Regions from separate parts of the Homo sapiens genome. Here region 2 is linked to region 1. Evidence: fine-mapped expression QTL. A gene starts in region 1. The other region holds a variant in brackets. All regions are shown on one strand. Distances are from middle to middle.

What was found. PIP is the estimated chance that this variant, and not a neighbour inherited with it, causes the effect.
Region 2: its variant is fine-mapped to the expression of MINDY4 in coronary artery (GTEx, PIP 0.97).

What each region holds. Positions count from the first base shown.
Region 1 is chr7:30,767,338-30,778,280 of GRCh38, reverse strand. It overlaps MINDY4 (MINDY lysine 48 deubiquitinase 4), which reads right to left and starts at 6,864. Exons shown (of 18, transcript NM_032222.3): 1 at 6,725-6,864. The coding sequence starts at 6,787. The region is part of intron 3 of INMT-MINDY4 (INMT-MINDY4 readthrough (NMD candidate)); the gene reads right to left. RefSeq lists silencers at 6,304-6,453, 6,824-6,873, 6,934-6,983 and an enhancer at 6,454-6,748.
Region 2 is chr7:30,834,611-30,846,878 of GRCh38, reverse strand. MINDY4 (MINDY lysine 48 deubiquitinase 4) reads right to left here. Exons shown (of 18, transcript NM_032222.3): 7 at 10,115-10,221; 8 at 7,563-7,679; 9 at 6,031-6,119. INMT-MINDY4 (INMT-MINDY4 readthrough (NMD candidate)) reads right to left here. Exons shown (of 20, transcript NR_037598.1): 9 at 10,115-10,221; 10 at 7,563-7,679; 11 at 6,031-6,119. Among named protein-coding and RNA genes, the nearest start is that of MINDY4, 69 kb to the right of the region's middle. The variant C/T (reference allele first, on the strand shown) is at 5,656.

The DNA.
Region 1 (10,943 bases):
TGATTCTTACAACAGCCCCATGGGCTAAGTGAAGGCTGAAGTTTTCAGGCCATTTCGCAGATAAGGAGTGAGTTCAGGACTCGCGCACAGGAGTCCTGGGTTTGGCCCTACATTTGGAACCATAGTATATGAAGCTTTAAAATTAAACAAAAGAAAAAATGTAAACAAAAGGCTAATATTCATTCCCTTCACTCTCAGATGGGGAAACCAGGAGATGGGGTTGACTTGCCCAATGTAACACAATGGAATCACATCACAGGTGGGGGCTGTAACCATCCCAAACTGTGAGTCCATGACTCTGGGACCCAGGCCCATGAGAAGCTCTTGGTAAATGCTAAGTCATGAGCAAAGCCACTTTCCATCATCCCACCCTGAACTGCCAGAAGACCAAGGTTCAAGGCCCAGCTGAGACATGCTCTAGCAATGGAAAATCTGGGGTTGGCGAAGTGAGGGTCCTGTTCGCAAGTGCCTGGCTTCTCTATTTGAAAAACAACCACAGCAGTTGCTCTCTGCCCACCTCACTGGGCCATGGTGATTGTCAAATGGCTGGAGGCTGAGAACATGCCTCACCAACAGCTCAGCCTGGTGTTAGGGGTGTTCCTTGTTCTTAATGGATTCCAGACCCCCAGTGCTACACAGGCTTCAGCCTCTCCCAGAGCCTTTGTGTTCAGAATTTTACAGAGGCTCTAGCTGCTGGGGAAACATGACAAAACCCATGCCCACCATGAATTTAGCTAAGAAGGTCAATTTGGGAAACTAAAAGAACACAATCTTGAAACAAACAGAGGAAAGAGGAGGCCGTAGGGAAGGGAAATGGAAAGAAATGGATATATGGGTCAGAAAAAAGGTGGATTAGGTGCATCGGGAAGAGTCCATTTGAAGGAGAGGTGGGGTTCAAAACCAACCACCCGCATTTCATCTGGGCTTAACCATGGCTTTCCCTCCAGTCAAAGTGATGTGGAACATGCTATAACGAGGCTCTCTCTGATGGATAATTCTTTATGTCTGTCAACAGTTCAAATCAGCAAGCCCTGTACATTTAACAAACCCCACCCCTACCCTGGCTCTAGAGCGTGATGCACACCAGCATTTGAAAACCACCGGGGGCCTGGGCATGGTGCCATAGGCCTGCAGTCCCTGAACTTTGAGAGGCCGAGGCAGGAGGAATCTTTGAGCTCATGACTTCAAGGCCACAGTGAGCTATGATTACACCACTGCACTCCATCCTGGATGAAAGAGTGAGACCCTATCTCTAAAAAAAAAAAAGAAAAAGAAAAAGAAAGAAAGAAGAAAAGGAAAGAAAAGAAAAGAAATACCATTGGGGTAGAGGACAAGGGTGCCCTTGGGAGTCAGCCAGTCCTCAGTCCCATCCAGCCCATTCAAACTTCATTCGCCCAACAAACACCTGTCATGCACCTCCTATGTGCCAGGCTCTGTTCTAGATGCAGGAGAGACAGAAGGAATAAGAGCTGATGTTCTGTTGGGAAAGCAGACCATAAATGTATAGTGTGGCAGCTGCTAATATGCACTACGAGGGAGACAAAGCAGGGAGAGGGAAGACAAGGATGAAGGCCACTGTTTTAGATGGCCAGCTATTTGTTCAGCATCATCCACATGCTCACTCCTGTCCCAGTTTCCCTATCTGTGAAACGAAGGGAACAGACCACTAGTCCGTAAGTCCAGTTGCTAGAGGCAGAGCAGTGAACAGATGAAAGTCCCAGTCCTCAGGGAGCTTGCACTCTATAGGGGGAGAGACAACAAGTATAGTATGATATGGGGAAAAAACATACAAAGTAGGATAAGGAGACAGAGAGGGCTAGGGTGGGTGTGGGGATGCGCTGCTACTTTATCAAAGGTGGTCAGGAAAGGCATCATTGATTGATGAGGGAATCAAAAGAGCAGGCCACACAGACACTTGGGAGAAAAGTGTTCCAGGCAAGGAACAGCAAGTGCAAAGGCCCTGAGCCAGTTGCAAAAGGCCAGTGCATCTAGAGCTGCATGGCAGGGGAAAGGAGGTAAGGAAGTCAGAAGTCACCCAGAGACTCATAAGGAAAGGTCTTGTGGGCTTTTATGAAATGGGAAGGCTACTATTTTGAACTGACATATTTTTGAAAGATCACTTGGCTGCTAGGTTGAAAATAAACTGTAGGAGGCAGGAGATTAAGGAGAAACCATTTAGGAGGCTATTGAACAATTCACAAATCACATGAAACAAAGGGGTGGCTTGGAGCAAGGTGTTTGCAACAGAAGTGGTAAGAAGTGGCTACATTCTGTATGTGCTCTGATGATAAAGCCAACAGATTTGCTGATGGACTGGATATGAGGTGCACAAGAAAGGAACAAGCCAAGAATAATTCCAAAGTTTTGGGCCCAGGCAACTAGAAGGACAGAGATGCCATTTATTCCAATGGGCACAGTTGTAGGAGGAACAGGAAATCAGAAATTGAGTTTTGGACATTATGATAAATATATATTTGTTCTGTGTCCCAGGTTCCTGGCACATAGATTCTAAAATCCTTGGAATCTCCAAGGTGATAAGAATGTCTTCTGTATGCTAATGTGATGACTAGTGGATGGGGACCCCTAGATAGCTTCAGGATGGGGGCTGGTCACCAGAAAGAGCAAACCTTGATTAGAGGGCTGGAACTTTCAGCCCTACCTCCCAATCTCCCAGAGAGGGAAGAGAAGCTATAGATTGAGCTAACCACCAATGGTCAATGATTTAATCAAACATTCCTATATAGCAGAATTGACACAAAATCTCCTGAATGATGGGGTTCAGGCAGTTCCCAGGTTGGTGCTGGGAGGGCAGCATGCTGAAGACGGCACAGAAGTTCCATGACCCTCCACCCACACCTTGCCCTATGCATCTCTTCCATCTGGCTGTTCCTGAATTGTGTCCTTTATAGTAAACTGGTAAATGTAAGTAAAGTGTTTCTCCGAGTTCTGTGAGCCATTCTAGCACATTATTAAAACTGTGGAGGGGGTTGTGGGAACCCTCAATTTATAGCTAGTTGGTCAGAAGTTCAGGTGGCAACTTGGGACTTCTGACTAGCATCTGAAGTGGGGGCAGTCATGAGCGTGACTTAACCTGCAGGGTCTGCACTAACTCTTGGTAGTGTCAGGACTGATTTGAATTGTACGACACCCAATTGGTGTCTGGAGAGTTGGAGATTTAGTTTGTATGGAGGAAAAATCCCCATACATTTGGTGTCTGAAGTGTGAGCAGAAACACTATCAGAGACATGTTGAGATGCTTGTTAGACATCCCAGTAGATATGTAGAATAGGCAGTTGTAAGAATTCAAGAGTTCAAGGAGAGGTCTCAGCTAGAGATAGACATTTGGGAATTGTCAGCATATAGATGGTATGGGAATCCACAAGACTGGCTGAGATGTCTTGAGAGTGAACGGAAAGAAGAAGAGAAGAGAGCCATAAACTAAGTCCTTGAGCCCACCAGAGTGCACAGGACAGAGAAACTAGGGGGACCAGCGAAGACCCTGAAGGGAGCACCCAGAGGAGTAGGAGGAAAGCTAAGAGGGACAGTCTCCTAGAAGACAAGCAGAAGGACACAATCAACTGTGACAAACATAATCATTAGATCAAGAAGGGCGAGGACTAAAAATTCCAGGTTAATAATGGCCCTAAGAAGAGCTATTTCCATGGAATGATGGGGACAAAAGTCTGATTAAAATGGGTTCGAGAAAGCAGAGAAAAGAATTAAAATGAAAGTAGACACAGGTCCTTTATGGGGTTTCTATAGAAAGGGAGGAAATAATAAACCAGTAGCTAGGGTTTGGGGGTCAAGATGGGATTCTGCAGGAGCACAACATGTGCTGATAGGAGTAACCTAGTAGAGGAGGGAAATGCATGGTGCAGGAGACAGCGACATCCCTGAGCACACAAGAGAGGGCATGCACACATGGAGGGGTGGGCCTAACCAGGGGTATGGAGAATTCATCCACAAGAACACTAAAGAGAGCAGAGTGAATGGTGCAGCCCAGGAAGGTGAGTAAGTGTGGTAGTGGGAGCCTGCTGGACTTCTCTCAAGACTTCTGTTTTCTCAGTGAAATTAGATGGGGAAGGAGCTTCAGGGTTTGAAGAGAGAGAAGGTATGAAATGGTCATCCAGGGTCTCAGAGGGTAAACAGTCTGGAGAGTTGCAACCAGGTGGGCAGGCACCCATAAGGCACCACAAGGGTGAGTGGCCATGGATTTAGAGTGATACCATCAACATAGTGGTGTGTGTTTCTCTCCAATCTCATTCAGCTCTATGGGCGCAAGTGTAGAGCAGGACGAGTGGAATTTTACTGTCAGAAGAGAATGATGAAAGGAGAGAAGCGCAAAAGAGCTGCACCTGTTATGGAGGGTGCAATTATAAGGATGGGTGGGTGAGAGGTAGGTGGGTTATGGTAGGCCCGAGGGACTGTGAAAAGTTGGCAGGAACAATGCAATATAGATGTGGTGAGGCTGGAGAAGAGTTTACGTGGGGCTATGATGGGAAACAAGCTAGAAATTTTGACAGGTGGGAAGCTTGGAATTGAGATTACAGAAAGGGCGCAGTACTGGTAACAACAAGCCCAGCTCATGACCATGGGGCAGGGTGGCAGAGGGAGGATGGCACAGTCACTGCAGGAGTGGAGCCACAGACTCAAGAAGCTGGGGCAGCAGAAGAGTCACCTCAGCAGACCCTGCCATCTCCAGGAGACTATCATGACTCCCCCGAGGGAAGACCACACTTGGTGAGTTCAAGTAGGCCAAAGTGGTTGAAGGGTAGAGGGCGGAGCAAGCAGTCATGGAAGATGAGGTCTGAGGGTAGCCAGAGCCAAGTAATGGAGAGACTTGAAGTCTAATTATGATGGGAAGCCAGTAGAGGGGTTTGAGCAGGGGAATTACATGGTCTGACCTGCTCACCCTGGGCAAGTTTCTTGGCCTCCTGGTCTCACAATAATCTTATGTGAAAGGGAATACTTATACCTATCTTTCAGGACTGTTACGAGGATCTGAGACAACAAACCAGCACCTTCTAGGTACCTGGCACCAAGGTGGCAGCTCTCTTGGTTACGACTGCTGGGTGCAATGACTGCCTGTGCAAAACCCTGTGGGGAGCACGTGGTCTCTGCCCTAGAGCAGAAGGCGATGAGAAAGCAGTATACCTGGGCTGCAGTCCCAGCTCACTGTGACCTTCTGAGTAACTGTGGGCAACTCCTTTCTACTCTTAGGGCCTTAGTGTGCCCAGATAAAACATGCGAGGGAGAGGAGACCAGGGGAACTCGGCCATGTCAAGTGGGGGGTGGTGGGGAGGGATGTGGGAGAGGCTAGAAATGAAATTGAGATGGTAAGCTGGGGTCAAGCTACAGGGCAGGCTTGGATGTCAGTGAGGACACTGGATTTCATTTGTACTCAAGAAAGAACACGAGGAAGCCCTCTCTAAGAGTTTTTTTCAGTGACCCAGACTTAAAAGAAATGATGTTAACAGTCAGCTTTCCAGGGTGTGTCAATTGATATCCAACATGCAGCCAGGACAGGTGATGGCAGGTCAATTAGCCATAAAGACAGGGCAGATGCGACAAAGCCAAACGCATTTAAAATTTTTTCAAATAAAAATAAATCATAAAAAACACACAAAGACACTTTCCAAACAGGTGCACTTCAGAGACACCTGTTTGGTGTCAGAAACAGTGAGGGTGGGAGGAGGTATAAAGTTGAACACCTACGTGCACATTGTATCTATATGTCAGATCCAATGCTTGGAAGCTGCCCATATGTTAATATTAATCCTCATTATAAATCTGCAAAGAGTAGGTCTTACTTTCCTGTTTTACAGATAACGAAATTGAGACAGTGAGTAAAGTACTGAGGTTCACACTGCAAACTAGTAGCAAATATTTGAATTGTCTCCGTCTGACTTCAAAGTCCTTCCCCTTTCCTCCATTCAAAAAATTACGTGTATGTGTTTTCATACAAGACAAGTACCCATCGCCCTAGCCCAGTATGACACTGCAAGGACAGACAAAACACACAGAGTGCAGCCCTCAGTCACCATGTGCTGAATGAGCTAATGTATGTCCCCCTCCACTACCACGCCCAAGACCCCCCGGCGAGCTCCTTCCCCACCGAGGTCCCCATCTCCACCCTGAGGCCAGATGACAGCTAAGGACCTTCCAAGCTTGTGAACACTGCAAAAACTCTCCTGGGACAAGACAATAGGAAAACTTACAAAAATTAAAGCAACCACTGGAATTCCCACTGTTGACTAAAATGACTAAGGGTTTGACCGTCAAGAACTTTTCTGGGCTTTTGGGGTTCCCTCTGGGAGAAGTTCTTTCCGAGTGGGACCCTGACTTGCGTGGGTAGCGCACGGAGGCCGGCAGCCAGGCTAGGGCGCAGGCCTGCCCGCTGTGCGCCCGCGCTAGGATTGCTTGGCGCGGCCCCCAGGCCCCCTCCCCAGCTGCCGCCGCCCCGGAGCGCGGATGCCCCAGGAGGGCAGCGGACGGGGTCCAAACCGTGCCTTGCGGAAGCGCCCGGTGACGACGGCAGAAACGCCTCGTGGGAAATGTAGTTTCCCCTGTCCCGGGAAAGCGGCGCTCTTCTGGGGCATCTCTGGAGCAGGCAGTAGGTAGGGAACGGGCGCCCTCCCAGAAGCTGCAAAGCCTTCAGGGGAGACCCCGATGATCCCCCCAAATTAGAGCCACTTCCTGGGCTTTGGAGGGGGCGAGCCGTTACCTTTCTGCTGAGGAACTCCCTGACCAAGGAGGCGGCCACCTCCTCCACGAAGAGGCTGTCCATGGCTCTGGCTCTGGCTCTGCCCACGAGGCCCACGCCGGGCCGCAGCACCAGGCAACTGGGTCTGTCCGGCGCAGTATGGCCGCGTTGCCGTGGCGACGGCGGCGTCGGCGCGGCAAGAACTCCTCCCCTTCCCTGGGGCTGGCGGGCTGGGGCGGGAGGGAAGGGGTGGAGCGTCCCGCAAACTCGCGTCTCGGAGTGGGAGGCCGCAGTCAGGGCGCCCTGGTGTCGCCTAGGGCCCCGTCCACGGCTCCGGACTCGGGGCCTCACTCTGACCCTGGCCCTGGTCATCTGAGAGGCCTAGGACAAATTACCGCTCCGCTCCGAGGCTCCATTTTCCTAGACATAAAATGGGAAGAATACCTGCCTCCTTGTTTCTGGAGGACTAAACTCACAGGGAAGTGACCCCCTCAGGTCCACCCTCAGCACCACGGCCCCCTCTGGGGCCACCAACGCTACTGACCTTGGCGGGCCTTGACGGTGGGGGCAAGGAAGCCCAGCATTCTGCTTCTTGGGCACCGAAATTAAAGGAGATGTTCCTCGCCCCCTTGGTGCCTGCTTTCCCGTAATGAGACTGCCATTTATTGATCACCAAGCTCTTAACTCACGGTTGCACTTTTAATCCTTACAACTTCCTGGCTAGGTAGTTACTGTTGGCCCCATTCTTTAAAACGGGACACTGAGATTCAGAAAGGCTAAGATTTTGCTGAGGCCCACACAGCTGGGTACTGGGAAAGTTGGGTTTCTAACCAAGCCCAGTACATTTTCCCCGAACTTAGTCACCTGGGTTCCACCTTCACAATCTTTGCCACTTCCGCATGTTACCTATTGTATTCCTTTGCTTGGGCTGCCATACAAAGTACCACAGACCATGTGGCTTAAACAACACATTTATTGTCTCCCAGTTCTGAGGGCTACAGACCAAGATCGAGGTGTCAGCTGGATGGTTTCTCCTGAGGCCTCTCTCCCTGGCCTCTATTATAGATGGCCACCTTCTCCCAGTGTCTTCACGTGGCTAGCCGTCCGTGTGTGCCTGTGTCCTAATCTCTTCTTATAAAGACATCAGTTGTATTGGAATAGGGTCCACCCTAATGACTGCATTTCCACTTCATCACCTCTTTAAAGACCCTATCCAACACAGTCACATTCTGGAATACCAGGCATTAGGACTTCAACACGGGAATTTTTTTTTCTTTTTTTTTTTTTTTTTTTGAGACAGAGTCCCGCTCAGGTGCCCGGGCTGGAATGCAGTGGCGCAATCTCGGCTCACTGCCAAGTGAACAACCACCTCCCGGATTCAAACCATTCTCCTCCCTCAGCCTCCTGAGTAGCTGGGATTTCAGGCGCCCACCACCGTGCCCAGCTAATATTTGTACTTTTAGTAGAGACGGGGTTTCACCATGTTGCCAGACTGGTCTTGAACTCCTGACCTCAGGCAGTCCGCCCACCTCGGCCTCCCAAAGTGCTGGGATTACAGGCGTGAGCCACCGCACCCGGCCCAACACAGGAGTTTTGAAAGACACAATTCAGCCCTTAACCCCTATACAGTTACTTATGTATTATTTTCTTTAAATCCACATACATGTTTTACAATTTATTTTAAAAGGAAAGTGTTCCCAAGCAGTAATAGCCACAAGATCTTGGGTTTTATGTGCTTATTAAATCTCTAATACACATTAAAACAAACACAAAACCAGAAAGGTATGCATTCACCTAAATCACCTTACAACCACCACTGGCACATGTACCACACTTGGGAAGCAACTATCTCACCCTATACAGTCTCCATAGGACGTAGCTTTAATGTGGCAGATTGCACCATAATCTCCAGGCAATTTCCCCTCTCAACGTGCAATGGTTCTTTGAGAAGCCTCTTTTGAACATGTTGTGCTATGTGAGAAAGAGCCATGTGCTCTTATATGTAGAGAGAGAAGGGCAGAGTTGCAGGAGACAGTATGATGCTTGGTCCAGGGGCCCTCATGTTCCAGCTGTGAAGACACACTGATGGATGATGTGTAATAATGAAAGAATAACATGAGACAGATTTATGCTCCATAAGAGATTGTGTATCAGGGGTCCCCAACCCCCTGGGCTGTGGACCGGTATGGGTCTGTGGCCTATTAGGAACCAGGTCACACAGCAGGAGGTGAGTAGCTGCAAAGGAACATTACCACCTGAGCTCCACCTCCTGTCCAATCAGCCACAGCATTAGCTTCTCATAGAATCACAAACCCTATTGTGAACTGCACATGCGAGGGACCTAGGTTGCGCACTCCTTATGAGACTCTAATGCCTGATGATCTGAGGTGGAACGGTTTCATCCCAAAACCATCCCCCACCTCCCATGCAAAAACTGTCTTCCACGAAACTGGTCCCTGGTGCCAAAAATGTTGAGGACTGCTGTTGTGTATCACAGATAGTAGGTGTTATATAGTAGGTCAGAAGAGAGATTTCCCCCGTGGAGGCAGACGAAGGTGAAAAGAGAAAAAATCATTCATTCCTCCATTCATTTACTCCTTTAAAAATATTTGTTGAGCCCTTACCACGTGCCAGGTGTATGGGTGCTGCAGATTTAACACTGTAAAATATATGCCTTCTTGAAGAGAGAATGGGGAAAGATGCAAATGGGGAGATGGACAGAAAAAAAAATTTATAAATGCATACAAAACACAGAGCACTGCAGATGATTTAAAGGGTATCATAGATATATGTGTGTATGTATTTTAGAGGCAGCATCTCATTCTGTCACCTAAACGGGGTTCAGTGGCACAATCATAGCTCACTGTAAGCTCAAATTTTTGAGCTCAAATGATCCTCCTGCCTAACCTCCCAAGGAGCTAGGACTACTGGCATGCACCACCCTACCTAGTTTATTTGTTTATTTATTTATAGAGATAGGGTCTCACTATGTTGCCCAGGCTGGTCTTAAACTCCTGGCCTCAAGCTATCCTCCTGTCTGGAGGATAGCTTGAAGATATGCAGCTTCCCAAAGTGCTGAGATTGCAGGAGTGAGTCACTGCAGCTGACCCCCAAAAATCATAGACTTGAAGAGGGAAAAAAGCATGGAGGGAGTATAGGAGGACTTTTTAAGGCAAGCAGAAATTATAATTTTTAAAAGTTGACTGGATAAGATCACTTCGATGGTAGAACTTCAGCAAGGAAGAGAGGATGTGAGCTATGCAGAGACTTGGAGGGAGAGCACTGCAGGCAGAAGAAACGCAAATGCAGAGGCCCTGCAAGGGCGACCAACCTGAGTGCTTGTGAAATTTTGAGGCCAGAGGGAGCAGAGAGGAGACAGAAACAGGGACCTGGTGGTATAGGGCCATCAGAAGGGCTTGGCTTTTCCTCTGAATGGGGAATCCTTTGGAGAGTTTTGGGCAGAGGAGAGACAGGATCTGACTTAGGTTTTGACAGGATCTCTTTGGCTTTTGTTTTGAGAATCGATTGTAGATTAAGGGCAAGTACAATGGATCCTCAAAAAACATTGCTTCCTTCAACATTGTTTCATTATGACGTTGAAAAGAAAAAAAAATCAGTTCCCAGCTGGGGCTACTGTCTGTGTGGAGTTTGCGTGTCCTCCCCATGTCTGCACGGGTTTCCTCCATCATCCCAAAGATGTGCACGCTGGGTGAATGTGTGTGTCTACATGGTCCCAGTGTGAGTGATTGTGGATGTGGGTGTGGGTGTGAGTGCTTCCTGTGATGGAATGTTGTCCTGTCCAGGGCAGGCCTTTTGCCCTGATCACTCATGATCCTGAACTGGAATAAGCAGGTAAAGATTGGTGATCTTTTTGGGACCAGAAATATGCCAGGAACTCAACTCTTGTTTATAGCAATTAGCCTATGGTAACACTGGTTTTGTTATATGTCATTTCGCTGAAAGCTGCAATTTCCAAAAACCTATGGATGATGCTAAATTAGGACTTACTGTATGGAAGCAGGGAGACTAGCTGGGGGACAACTGCACCAATCAGTGGTCCAGGTAAAACTTAGGCTAGACATGGTTAAGTGCGTGTGTGTGTGTGTGTGTGTGTGTGTGTGTGTGTGTGTGTGTGTATGTGTGTGTGTGTGTGTGTGTCTGTCACTTTCCTGGCCCTGAAACTCTTTTTTCACATTGGAATGAAAGGTTAAGCAAGAGAAGTGCAGGAATGCATTCTTTT
Region 2 (12,268 bases), 68 kb before region 1:
GGCAGGAACCCTATTGTGAATTGTGCATGCGAGGGATCTAGGTTGCGCGCTCCTTATGAGAATCTAATGATAAATGTAATGCACTTGAATCATACCGAAACCATCCCACCCCCACCTCCAGTCCATGGAAAAATTGTCTTCCACAAAACCAGTCCCTGGTGCCAAAAAGGCTGGGGACCGTGGATTTAACCCACCCCAGATTAGCCAGGGCTGTATGTGCCTGCGTGAGAACCTGCACCCACAGATGATGACAGGGAAAGGTCCTGCGTCTGAATCACCCAGGCCTTTACCAGATAGCTCAGCGCACGCCTTCACTGGCAGAACCCAGGTGACAAACAGGTCTGCATTTCCTGATCAGTCAGACTCCTCCCAGGAGGCTGGCACCTGGCCAGGCTCTTAAACCAAGAGAAGTTTCTTTAAGAGTCGAATTCCTCACAGGTGAAGTGCAGGAAAAAGACATTTATCTAGAGATAGGGAAAATAAATGATCTTGAGGGAATAATACATCCTGCTTTTACCTAAATTACCCAAGTGTTTCAGATGAAAGAGATGTTTCTACCCTAACTTTCTCAAAATAGCCTCACCTGTCCACTGTGACGTGCCCATGGAGCCATGTACAGAGTCTATAATTTGGGGGAGCTCCCTGTCTGCTCCCTCTCAGGGTCAAAAGCTGCAATAGGGGGTAGAAAGGCTGGCCTGGGGCTGCAGGACCATAGGTTCTGCTACCAATGTCCACAGAGGCCTTGGGCAAGCACCTCTCCTTATCTGGGCCTCGAATTCCCCAACTTCAGAGGGGAAGTGGAAGTGAGAGGAGGACTTCCTGGATTCCCCGACTCTCAGATCCGCACCCGCCTCTGAGGGCCGTTCCTGGCCTGTGGCTCTCTCCAGGCCTTCAGGGGGATCAAGAGCTCTTCATCTCTTTCTGTGAGCCAAGCCGGCACAGCCTCTTCTCAAGTGGAAAAACACCAAGTACTGCTGCCCAGCTCCATCCTTCCCGACTGAGGAGAGGCCGGCTGCCGGCCTGATGGAATGAGTCGTAATGAAGCCAGACAGTCCTGCAGAAAAAACACCACCACTGCCAAGATGCCTTTATTTCAGCGTGACTTCCCTGGAGGGTGCGATCCCATCCTCCATCTGCTTTCACAGAACCATTTCCCCACCAGATGTGGTGGGCAACATCTGAGGTGGGGGCCTCCAGGGCCAAGGCAGACCCCGCACACAGGCAGGAAAGTGCAGGGGCTGCCTCTGGGTCCACAGGGCCTGAGCTCCCCAGAGCCGCAGAGCAGATGGCAGCTGATGGCAGGTCATCGTGGTGTTCCTGAAGAAAACAGAAGAGCTTGCCCTTTTTTTTTTTTTTTTTTAAGCTGGATCATGTCTGAAATCCTAGAATTTCAGAGTCAAAAGGGAGTGCTGAGGCCTCACACCCAACCATTCACACATGGCTTTTGAAGGAACATCAATAACACAATCAATCAATGTGAAAACTATATAAGTCAATGAAACCGAGGAGCTGAGGACTGAGAGAGGTTCCTGCCCACGTGACCCAGTGTTTCCCTTTGCTCGTGTGGGGCAGGGGCTCTGTAGGTGTTTGCTATGTTGCTCTCTGTACTCTTCTGTGTTCATCTTTTCTAACTTAAAGCCAAAGGGGAGGTTCCACCGTGAAGCCGTTCATGAACAGAGCCACCCCTTGGTCCCTAGGAGTCTGTGTGGGTGTCCAGCGATGGAAGTCTAAAACTCAGAGCCCTCAGCCTTCCTCCTGGCCTCCCTGGGCCCCCACTGCTCCATGCCTCTTGCAGGGCACAGCAGCACAATGTGACACAGGGGCACCAGGTGCCAGTCTTGGTTCTGCCAGGGATGCCAGATGTGACCCTGAACAACCATCTTTCCCTCTCTGGGCCTCAGTTTCCCCATCTGTACCATGGCAGGCTGAGTTCAATGGCCCTACTCACTTATAGAGCCCTTGAAGATTTACAAAGGACTTTGCATTTTCTTACTGAGTCCAATTTAGGCAAGCCAGAGATGACTATTCCTAGTTCACAAACGGAGAAAGTGATGCTCTGTTTCCACACAACCATAATCCAGGTCCTGACCCGGTCTGGTACCCTCTTCAGCACCCTTCCCCTCTCCCAGGGTGGCTGAGGGGCACAAAGCCAGGCATTCCCCCTCCCAGCCTGGGCACCAACATCTACAGGCTAGACACCCACCCACTTGGCAAGGACAACCTTCTGTAGCCTCTGACCTTCAGGGCCTTGGCAAAGCAGTGACATGGACTCCACCTCCCTTCTCTTCTCCAGGCCCCCGACAGCAGGCCCTCACTCCCTGGTCTTCCGGGTCTTCACTTGACAGAAGCCCTAACCTGTCCTCAGGAGGGTTCTTCCTCCCCAACCCCTATCTACCTGCGACCTGAGGCAGGACCAGTGCAGGAGAGTGGGAGGAGACTGGGGTGGGAGGGCTGGGGAGGGCATCTGGTGCCTGCTGCCCAGGGCCCATCACCAGGAGGAGGCGAGTCCTTGCTGGGGTCAGGGGAGACGGTCTCTGGGCCTCCCCAGCTTGTCTCCCTGTGACAGCTCTGCCTGAGTCCCCTGAGGCTTTTTCAGCGAGCTCCATAACTAAGCCAGGCTCTCCACTCCTCCCTCTCAGGGGAGTCTGAAGAATGTCCCCTGAGGCCTGCTAGGAGGTCTGTGGGAGCAGGAAGTCAGACCGCTTCACTCAACCTGCACAGCACAGCACCTCTGTGATGGGGCAGCAGCCGGTAGGGGTGGGCTACAAGCAGCACCCAGTCCAGGGGGTGGGCTACAAGCAGCACCCAGAGTTGCAGGGCTCCAAACAAAAGCGAGGTCACTCTCCTACACCATGAATCCTTCCAGGCTCGCTGGAGAAGGTGGCCCTGGCCAGCAGGCCGTGCTCTCCCAGCTGCATGGCACAGACCTCCTCTGGTCCAGCCAGGCAGGCCCCCCCATAAGGTCTGGCTCCTTGGCACCTGGCACACCTCCACACATGATGACCCCCAACAGGCCAGCAGCTCCTTCTTCCCTCCTCCTCTGCCCACCCCCACAGCCCCAGGACCCACTGGGCTGCACCATCCTTGGCCTGCAGCTAGGAGGTACCTGCCTGGCCGGCAACGACAGATAGAAAACCTCACTCCTCCAGCTTAGCAGTTTTCTTTCTACCCAGACACCCCCTTGGGATCCCAACCTGGATGGCTTTTGCCTTCTAAGGCCTGGCTTCCCTCCCTGGTGTGGACAGCAGTGGGCTTCCACCCCATGGATGTGGCCTGGGGGTGGGGTAACAAAAACCAAGTCTGCCTTGTGCCCTGAGCAGAGTCGGCTCTTCCTGGAACATGCTTAAATGCCTTGTCCTGACTGTTGGGAAACCATCCACAAGTTCCCCCAGAAGCCCACGGTGAAGTTCAAAAGCAACTCTGAAGGAGCACTAGGCTGAAATGAGTTTAGAGACAATCTCCTGCAAGGGCCAAGGCTTGATCCAAGCAGCTGGCAGCACCCAAGGCCCCTCTGGCAGCCTGGCGCTGACCTGCCACTACCCCAGCTCCCACCCTCCTCCTCCAAATGCTGCCCTAACCACCCCCAGTGACTCCTCCACTCCTCTCACTGCCCACAGGCTTTGCACATCTTGTTCTCTTTACTGGAATACCATTCTGCCTCCCCTCCCTGTTTGGATAACTCATTCATTTGTCCATGTGTTCTCTCAACAAAAATTCTGAGGGCCTCTTCTGTGGACCAGACACAGGGCTGGATGCCAGGGCCCTGGCTGTGAACCAGCTCAGGAAGGTCCCTGTTCTCACGGGGCTTGTGTTCTGGAGTGGGGTGGGCAGTAGTAGGTGGCGGCAGATGTGGACAGGTAACCATATCGATGAGCAAGAGCACCAGCTGGCAGTGGAGTTATTAGAGGCAGGGCCTGGTTTTATCTTAATGGGGGAGGTCCCAGGAGGCCTCCACAAAGATGTGGCCTCTGTGCAATGAGAGGAGCCAGCAGGCACAGCGCCTGAGCACAGAGCCTGAGGGCTCAGGAAGGTGTTTGAGAATATTTGCTGGGAAGGTGAAAACAATTTGAGGGGGAATAAGAGTGTGCAAGGATGCATATGAAGGGGAATCAGGGGTTCTGTCCATCCTTCCTATCTCCGTAAGATGAAAATGTCAGTCCACCAGGCTGCCCGCCCTGAGCCACTTCATGTCCAGATGAACCCTTAGCACCGTGCATGTCCCCTGTAACCACCTGTTCCTGTCTGGCTCTCCTGTTCAATCATAGGTGCCATGAGGGCACCTGTATGTGTCTTGTTCAGCCCTGTATCCCTGCTGAGGACCTGCTAAGCACACTCTGCACATTTTTTTCAGTGCAAGGAAGGAAGGTGGGTAGGTAGGTAGGTGCATATGTGCTCAGTATCCCTGTACCCTCTGAGGGCAGCCAGCGGTTCTTACTTAGCAAAGTTCCACCCAGTCAGGAGCATTCCTGAGCATACAGGACTGTGTTGAGCCCACCAGGGAGAGCTGATGGCAGGGTCTCTGCCCATGACATTCAAACCTCCCAGCCCTTTGTGGGGCTGAACTTCCAGAGCAGGCAGTGGGGCATGATCCTGTACAGACAAGAGCCACGAAGGATCGACCGGAGAGCAAAGGGGAGGGGAAGCAGAGAGAAGAACAAGGACAGGTGAGATCTTGCCACGGAAGTGTTACATTGCTGTGCTTCTGATTAGCATTTTTGGTTGGAGAGGAAACACCTCAATTATTATTGTGCAAAACCATTGGAAAAAATTTTAAGATGCCAAGCATGAAAAGCCACCTTCACTTGAACCCTAACTAAGGAAAAATCATCCGTGCTGGTGAAATGTGTTTCATTGGAGTACCAAGCTTGGCTGGATGGCTCTCCTAGTGAACAGTGTCGTTCCCAGGAATGCATGGGAAATGGGTCTTGTTGTCTGGGTAACACCTAGGCTTTTTTAAAAAAGATTCTCAAATGCTTATTTCAAAGAACAAGTACCTTTCAATAAAGTTCAGGAACTGGCAAGATTAAGCTATGGTTTTAAAATCCATTTAATTATTAATATAACTTCAGGAGAATAGGGGTACCTGCTGGGTACCAGAGGATGCTTCTGGAGTACTAGAAATATTTTTTCTTAATCTAGACAATGTGTTCATGGGTGTGCGGTTTTGTGATAATTCATTGAGCAGAACACACATAGTATAACTACTGTGTATATGTTATATTTTAACTAAATTTTTTTTTTTTAAAAAAGGCCAATTGCCAGAAGTTCTGTAGCTCTGAGGGTGACTCGGTACAAGCTGGTAACCGGGCCTGCAGGGAGGGAAAGAGAGGCAGGTCACTTCCTCAAGAAGGCCTCGCCTCCAGCCCCACCAGTGCCCTGCCAATCCTTTCATCTTGGCACCAACGATGGTATGGGATTGGGGTTTTCTATCTGCCTCTCAACCTCATGGAGCATTTCTGGAGAGGACAGAACTCATCTAATTCTCCCCTGTATCATTTGTGCCTGCACAGAGATGTTCCAGGAATGTGTGCTGAATGAATGAGAATAAGGTGCTCATGTGCAAACACTTAATGTGTGAAATGGAAACTGAACGGCTGCAGGGAGTGGAAGTGATGATCTGTGGGGCGGCCTGGAATGTGTGGTTATGAATGTTGG[C/T]AGAGGGGAGATAGCGTGGGGAGGGAAGGGAGGCCCGGACGCAGTCGAAAGGTCGGCAGGTCGACCTGGTGGGTGGAAGGGATTCGGGCAGCTTGCCGTCTGAGGAGGGAAATTGGTTTTGATGTCGTTCCTGCAGCCCCTTCCCAGGTGGAGCACCACTGAGAACCCTCCCCGCTTTCAGAAACAAACGCGCACAAGTCCCCTTAACACTGGTCTGCGCAGGCCTTGTCAGCTAGCTGCCATTAACCTCTCCTTTCTTGACCTGCAGAAGACAGGAAATATCAGGGAACACACATGCTTCCTTGCTTGTTTTTTCTGGACACTCTGGGGAAGACTTGGGAAAATAAGATATTGCCAGAAAGAGCACTGACTTACTGAGCACAGTCGGCTTTGCTATCTCCTTCAAACAGGAGTTTCTGTAGGACACAGCCTTGGACAGCTGCCAGGACTCCGCAAGGACCACCCTGCAAAGAATGAGACCATTGCTGCCAGTGAGAACTGGCCTGGGGCAGAGTTTTTGGTTTCACCCAAACCCACCCCAGAACCCACCTGATAGAGTAAAGGGGCCCTGCCTTCTGCAACAGAAGGGCCTCTGATGTGGCAACTGCTTCTACAACACACTAACCTTGGGCCACAGAGAGGGAGTGACAAGACCCTTTGTCCACTCCTAGGGGAAGGGGCCAGTTGTCAGTGTGTCATGGGAGGAAAGTGACTCCTCATAACCAGTCAGCTGTGAAGCCAAGGACATCACCATAGGTTTTCTATCATCTAGGGAAATGTTTCTGTGTCTACAGGTTGAGGGTGTTAATTGTCTACCCAGCCTTCAAGGCCCATCCTAAAGTTCTCCTCCTCCAAGAAGCCTTTCCTGACCATCTCGGCTGGCAGTGAGCCCCTTCAACAGCCTGTGGTTACATGAGCTCTGCGCTCTCTTCTGCCCCACTTGTGGCCTGCTTCAGCACCACATTAGGTGTATCTTTGTCCTTTCTCACCCTGTGGTGCAGAGGCTTCTTGAGGAGCTCATCTCTGTAGGCATCACGGGGCTTAGCACAGGATCTGACTCCTGGGACACATTGGCAAAGGCTAGTGGGACTGAACAACACAAACAGACCTCATCCAGGTTTAAGGATTGTCTGAACGGCAGGTTGGGGTGCTCATGAAGACCAGCTGAGTTTGGCCACAAGAGGGAGGGACAGAAGCTGGTGGTCCTGGGGCTCGACCTCAGGCAGTGTGGGGCAGGGGAGGTTCCTGGGGCTTAAGAAACTGAACCGGACCAAGCTGCCCTGCTCAACTGCTGATTCTTGATCCTGGGTTTAGCTTATTTTCTGCCCATGAGTATAATGTGGGAACTGGGTATAAGCCATGTTCTAGGCCTGCAACCATTGGCCTCCGCTGGCCCAGCTTCTATTACATCCTTCTCTTCAAGCACTTGCTCTGCACACTTGATCCCTCTGCCTTTTCATGCAGCCCCTAGACTTTCAAACCGCCTCCCCTTCATTAATGCTGCCACCTGCCTGGAGTGCCCTTTCTCCAGCTCTATCTGCAAAATCCTGTGAATCTCTCAATGATCAGCCTAAGAAGGCCCCTCTAGTGGCCCCAAGCAGACTGAAGGCCTCCTACTGCTCTCTCTCCTGCTGAGGATCCCAGCACCTGCACCACTCACAGCAAGTGCTCCTTAAATCCATGTTCAATTTTAACATCTCCAAAGCAGAGGGTCTTATTCCCCAGCTCTTGCTGCACCAGCCACATCTGAAGTGCCTGCACCAAGTGACAACTCAGCACATGTGGGGCTGGCTGGTCCAGAATAGCTCAGCTAATGCTCACAGGATTAACCAAAACTGGGAGGTACACCCACCCCTATGCATGATGGCCCAGCAGAAAGGTCCCAAGGAAACCTAGGAGCAACCTGCCTTGTTCTGCACTATGCCGTATTTTAATGAGGCTGTGTTACTAAAGGAAAAACTCTGAAGTTTCCATTCTTCATTGAAACAGCAAAAGCTGGAACCAAACAGAAGGGTCTTTATTTCCTATAAAAAGAAGAGAGAGTTTTACTGGTTGTTTTAAAAGCAAGCAACAATACGATGTTCAGTGTGCATATTCCTGCAGAAGTTGTTCTTGAATTCTAGCAGGGAAGCCCATTTTCTAGCATGGTTCATCTCTTCTCTTTTTATTTTTCAGGCTCATTCTTCTTATATTTGATGAAAGAGAAACTCAATAATGAGGGTCTTACCTCTGGAACATCTTTAAACCAAGCTAGCCTGTGCTGACATGGGCCAAAATCTTTGTAAGCTCCTTACAGGGGCCTTGAGAAACAAAATTTTAGATTTGCAAGGGATCTTGGAGGTCCTCTGATCTTCCACAGGCAAGACTAGGGGTTTTCAAACTCGACCTCACATTAGAACCATCTAGGATACGAAGTTCCTAAAAACAATCTTGATGTTCAGAAAACACACCAGCCAATTAAACCCCAGTTGCTGAGGGTGAGACTCCAGTATCAGTAGTTTTAAGATTCCCCCAGGTGATTCCACAGTGTGCCGGGTTTGAGAGCCAGTGCTCTAGTGCAGGGTTACTAAACTGTGACCCACAGGCCAAATCTGCCCCCACCACCTGTTTGTAAATAATGTTCTACTGGCACACAGCAAAGCCCATTTGTTTCCATACCACCCATGGCTGTGTTCATACCATGATGGCAAAGTTGAATAGGTGCAGCAGAGATCACACTGCCAGCAAAGCCAAAAATACACTATTGAGCCCTTTACAGAAAACACCTGCCAACTCCTGGTCTAGTACAACTCTCTACCATGCGTAAGAACCTCCTCTGTGATGCCGCCCATGAGTGGTCCCCCGTGAACTCTGCTTGAACCATCCCAACCCCCCAGTGAAGGGGTTCCCACCACCTCTCAAGGCAGCCCCTCTACTTTCTCACGGCTGTCTTCTCCAGACTTCTGGCTGATAATGAGTTCACTGTTCATTTCCCATCAACCCACGCATCACCCTCCAGAGCCCCCAGAATGGTCAATCCCTTCCCCATGGACAGGCCCTCAGATGAGAAAGGCAGCAGGTCCCCGCCCACTCCCCTCATGATGGGCCCACCCTCTCTCTGCCATGGTTTTACATCTGAGGGGGTCTCTGAAGCCTTGAGTGAGCCCCAAGACCAGCAGGTGGATTCTACAGCCACTTCCCTGTACCCCCTCTCTGGGTCAGACCTTTCCTACAGACTCATTATTTTCCACCAGAATCAGCTCTTTTTTTCCTTTTCATTAAATATAAGGAAAAATCTCTTTGACAGAAGCATTTGTCCACATGTCATCAAATGTGGGCTGGTGGCACACAGGAGAAAGGATGTGTGGATTCATCTGTCAGGGCTCAGAATGACAGCTCCCGCTAGGCACAGTGTGGTCAACAGAGCCTGGGAACCTGGACTCTGCTTTCCAGAGGCCACGTGCCCTGGGCCCTCCTGTTTTCTCTGCAGGCCTCACTTTTTCCAGTTGCTTTTGGAGACGCTACTGCTGCATAGTCTTTAGGAGCCTGAGGGGTCTGCCCCAAGCATAAGTGCGCTCTGCAAAGACTCATTGCATGGTGACAGATGACAGAGCACCTCCTCCCAGGTTTGGGGCCATTTAAGTGTATCTGACCCTCTGTAGCTTCAAAAGAGAGAATGGAAGAAGGGGGAGATATGAGAGAGAAGGGGAGAGGGGAGGAGAGGGGAAGGAAACGAAAGGACAAAACCTCTAGAAAAATATTTTGCTCTTTGATTTGTATGCTGAGTAAATATGTAGTAAGTAGGAAGAGAAGGAAGTCAGCTGTGTCCCTAGGAGTTTTATTTTTCCCTCCTGGATCTTGGTGAAAGGCCAGAAGAGGACAGCGGGAATGACATTCCATCCTGCAGGAGCCTCTGGTCACGGGAGTGGTGAGGCCACCCTGGTAGCCGAGCATGGTGAGCAATCCCAGACACCCCTGCAGAAGAGGCTGCTGTGGCCAGGAACCTGCTCCTGGTCCCCTGTGACCACGGGGCCCTTTAAGTGGCCAAGGGAGTACACCTGAACAGTGCTGAAGAATTGTTAACACCTCCCTGTCCTTCCTTCACTGCAACCTGGCCAGGGCTTAGGAGACCAGTACAGGAGCAGCGCTGCTCTAATGGGGACAACTGGACCATTTCCATCACACCCTAACGGTGCCCACAGGGACATGATGAAGCAGCTCTATTCCCACGGTATTTGGAGGGGAGGACATAACCTCCTCCCTCACCTTTTGTCTTGGAGAGGGAACGAGAGCTGCAAGGACTAGACTGCAGTTTTCCTGACTCTCGGTTCACATTTTCTTCTACATCACACCCAAATTTCCATTTCAACAATGACCAAGAGATTACAATGAGCTGGATTGGGGCAGAAACACCAAAATCACGCCATCTATATCCATTCAAATCAAGACACATTTAACCCAGGAGTCTCCTTACACTTACCTTTGCTACTGAGAGGTCAATTGGTTTTGATGCTGTCTGCAACTTGAGCACTGATGGGACTGGCGACAGGATGACCTCTTCCCTTATCAACTCATCCTCCACATCCTCTGAAAGAAAACCATGGCCATGTGAGCCCTTCGTTATGACTCACGGAGAACAGAACATGAAGTCACTGAACACCACAGACATTGCTAAGTTTGTAGAAGGTTTGAGTGAAAGGAGGGTTCCTCCCCGCATTCATTCACCCCAGCTCTGTTCTGAAGTTCCCAGACCCTTAGCGGAAGGAAAGCAACCAGATCAAGAGAGTCCATGCTCCTTGTCACAACCCTGCTCTGTTCATACCACGAGGATGTTGCCGAGTGAGACTTAGCTACTGGTCCACTAGAAAGTTCCACGCATGGACATAGAGTGGAACAAGTGCCTGGGTCCTAAGCCATCGAACCAGGACCAGGAAAGCCTAGCTCAGACACATTTCTTACAAAAGGTGGGCATGACTCGAAAGATCATTCCCCCAAGGACAAAGGTGAAGAGGACAGGACTGGGAAAGAAAATGGAACCATTGCTGATAAAATAATTATTGCATATAATCACTATTGTAACTTGCATTTATTGACTGCTTGAATTTGATCACCTTCTTCCACAACAGCCTTATGAGAAAGTAATTATCATTACCCCCACTTATAGATGAGGAAACTGAGGCTTAGAGGAGTTAAGTAACTGGCCCCAAATCAATCAAATGGAAAGTGGCAGAGAGAGTGACTCCTAGTAACTCTACCATCCCACTGTCCTGGACCTCCAGCAGGGACCGTAAGCCATATTCCAGATATTGTTTTCTCATAGTGGGACAACTGAGGCCTAGAGAGGGTCCCAGCTGTGACTTCCCCGTTAGCTAAGGCCCCCTTGTCATTACACCTGCTGCCGCTGCATTCACCAGAACACAGTGATAAAGGACCCAGGGAGAAACAATGCCAAGGCAATGGTGCCGGCAAGGCTGAGCAGAGTGAACTCCAGAGGGTAGCTGAGGGCTTGGCTCTGTGAATCCAGCTCCCTAGAGGGGCCTGCCAGAGTGGGCCTGTGTGGGCGGGGGTGGTATCAAAGGCCACCATTCCCAGGACACACAGCTTATATCTTATGCTACAGCCTCCTTTCTCCCCAGGGCGACCCAGCCACAGCACAAGGGGAACTCCTAGAGACTCAGGCCACTGAACAAGCACATAGATTCTACCACTGGGCTGGGGAATAAAGTCTGGAATTTAAATATGAACCTGAACTTAGATGAGAATGCTTCTGATATGGTTTGGCTCTGTGTCCCCACCCAAATTTCATTTTGTAACTCCCATAATTCCCATGTGCTGTGCGAGGGACCCAGTGAGAGATAACCGAATCATGGGAGTGGGTCTTTCCTGTGCCGTTCTCATGATAGTGAATAAGTCTCACAACATCTGATGGCTTTAAAAAACAGGAGTTTGCCTGCACAAGCTCTCTTTGCCTGCTGCCATCCACATAAGATGTGACTTGCTCCTCCTTGCCTTCTGCCATGATTGTGAGGCCTCCCCAGCCATGTGCAATTTAAAGTCCAATAAACTTTCTTTTGTAAATTGCCCAGTCTCAGGAGTATCTTTATCAGCAGCATGAAAACAGACTAATACAGTAAATTGGTACCAGTAAAGTGGGGCGCTGCTGAAAAGATATCCGAAAATGTGGAAGTGACTTTGAAACTGAGTAACAGGCAGAAGCTGGAACAGTTTGGAGGGCTCAGAAGAAGACAGGAAAATGTGGGAAAGTTTGAAACTTCCTAGAGACATGTTGAATGGCTTTGACAAAAATGCGGATAGTAGTATGAACAATAAGGTCTCAGATGGAGAGGGGGAACTTGTTGGGAATTGGAGCAAAGGTGACTCTTGTTGTGTTCTAGCAGAGATTGGCAGCATTTTGCCTCTGCCCTAGAGATTTGCAGAACTTTAAACTTGAGAGAGATGATTTAGGGTATCTGGTGGAAGAAATTTCTAAGCAGCAAAGCATTCAAGAGGCGACTTGAGTGCTGTTAAAGGCATCCAGTTTTATAAGGGAAACAAAGCATAAAAGCTCAGAAAACTAGCAACAGAAAAGAAATGTAATAGAAAAGAAAACCCCATTTTCTGAAGAGAAATTCAA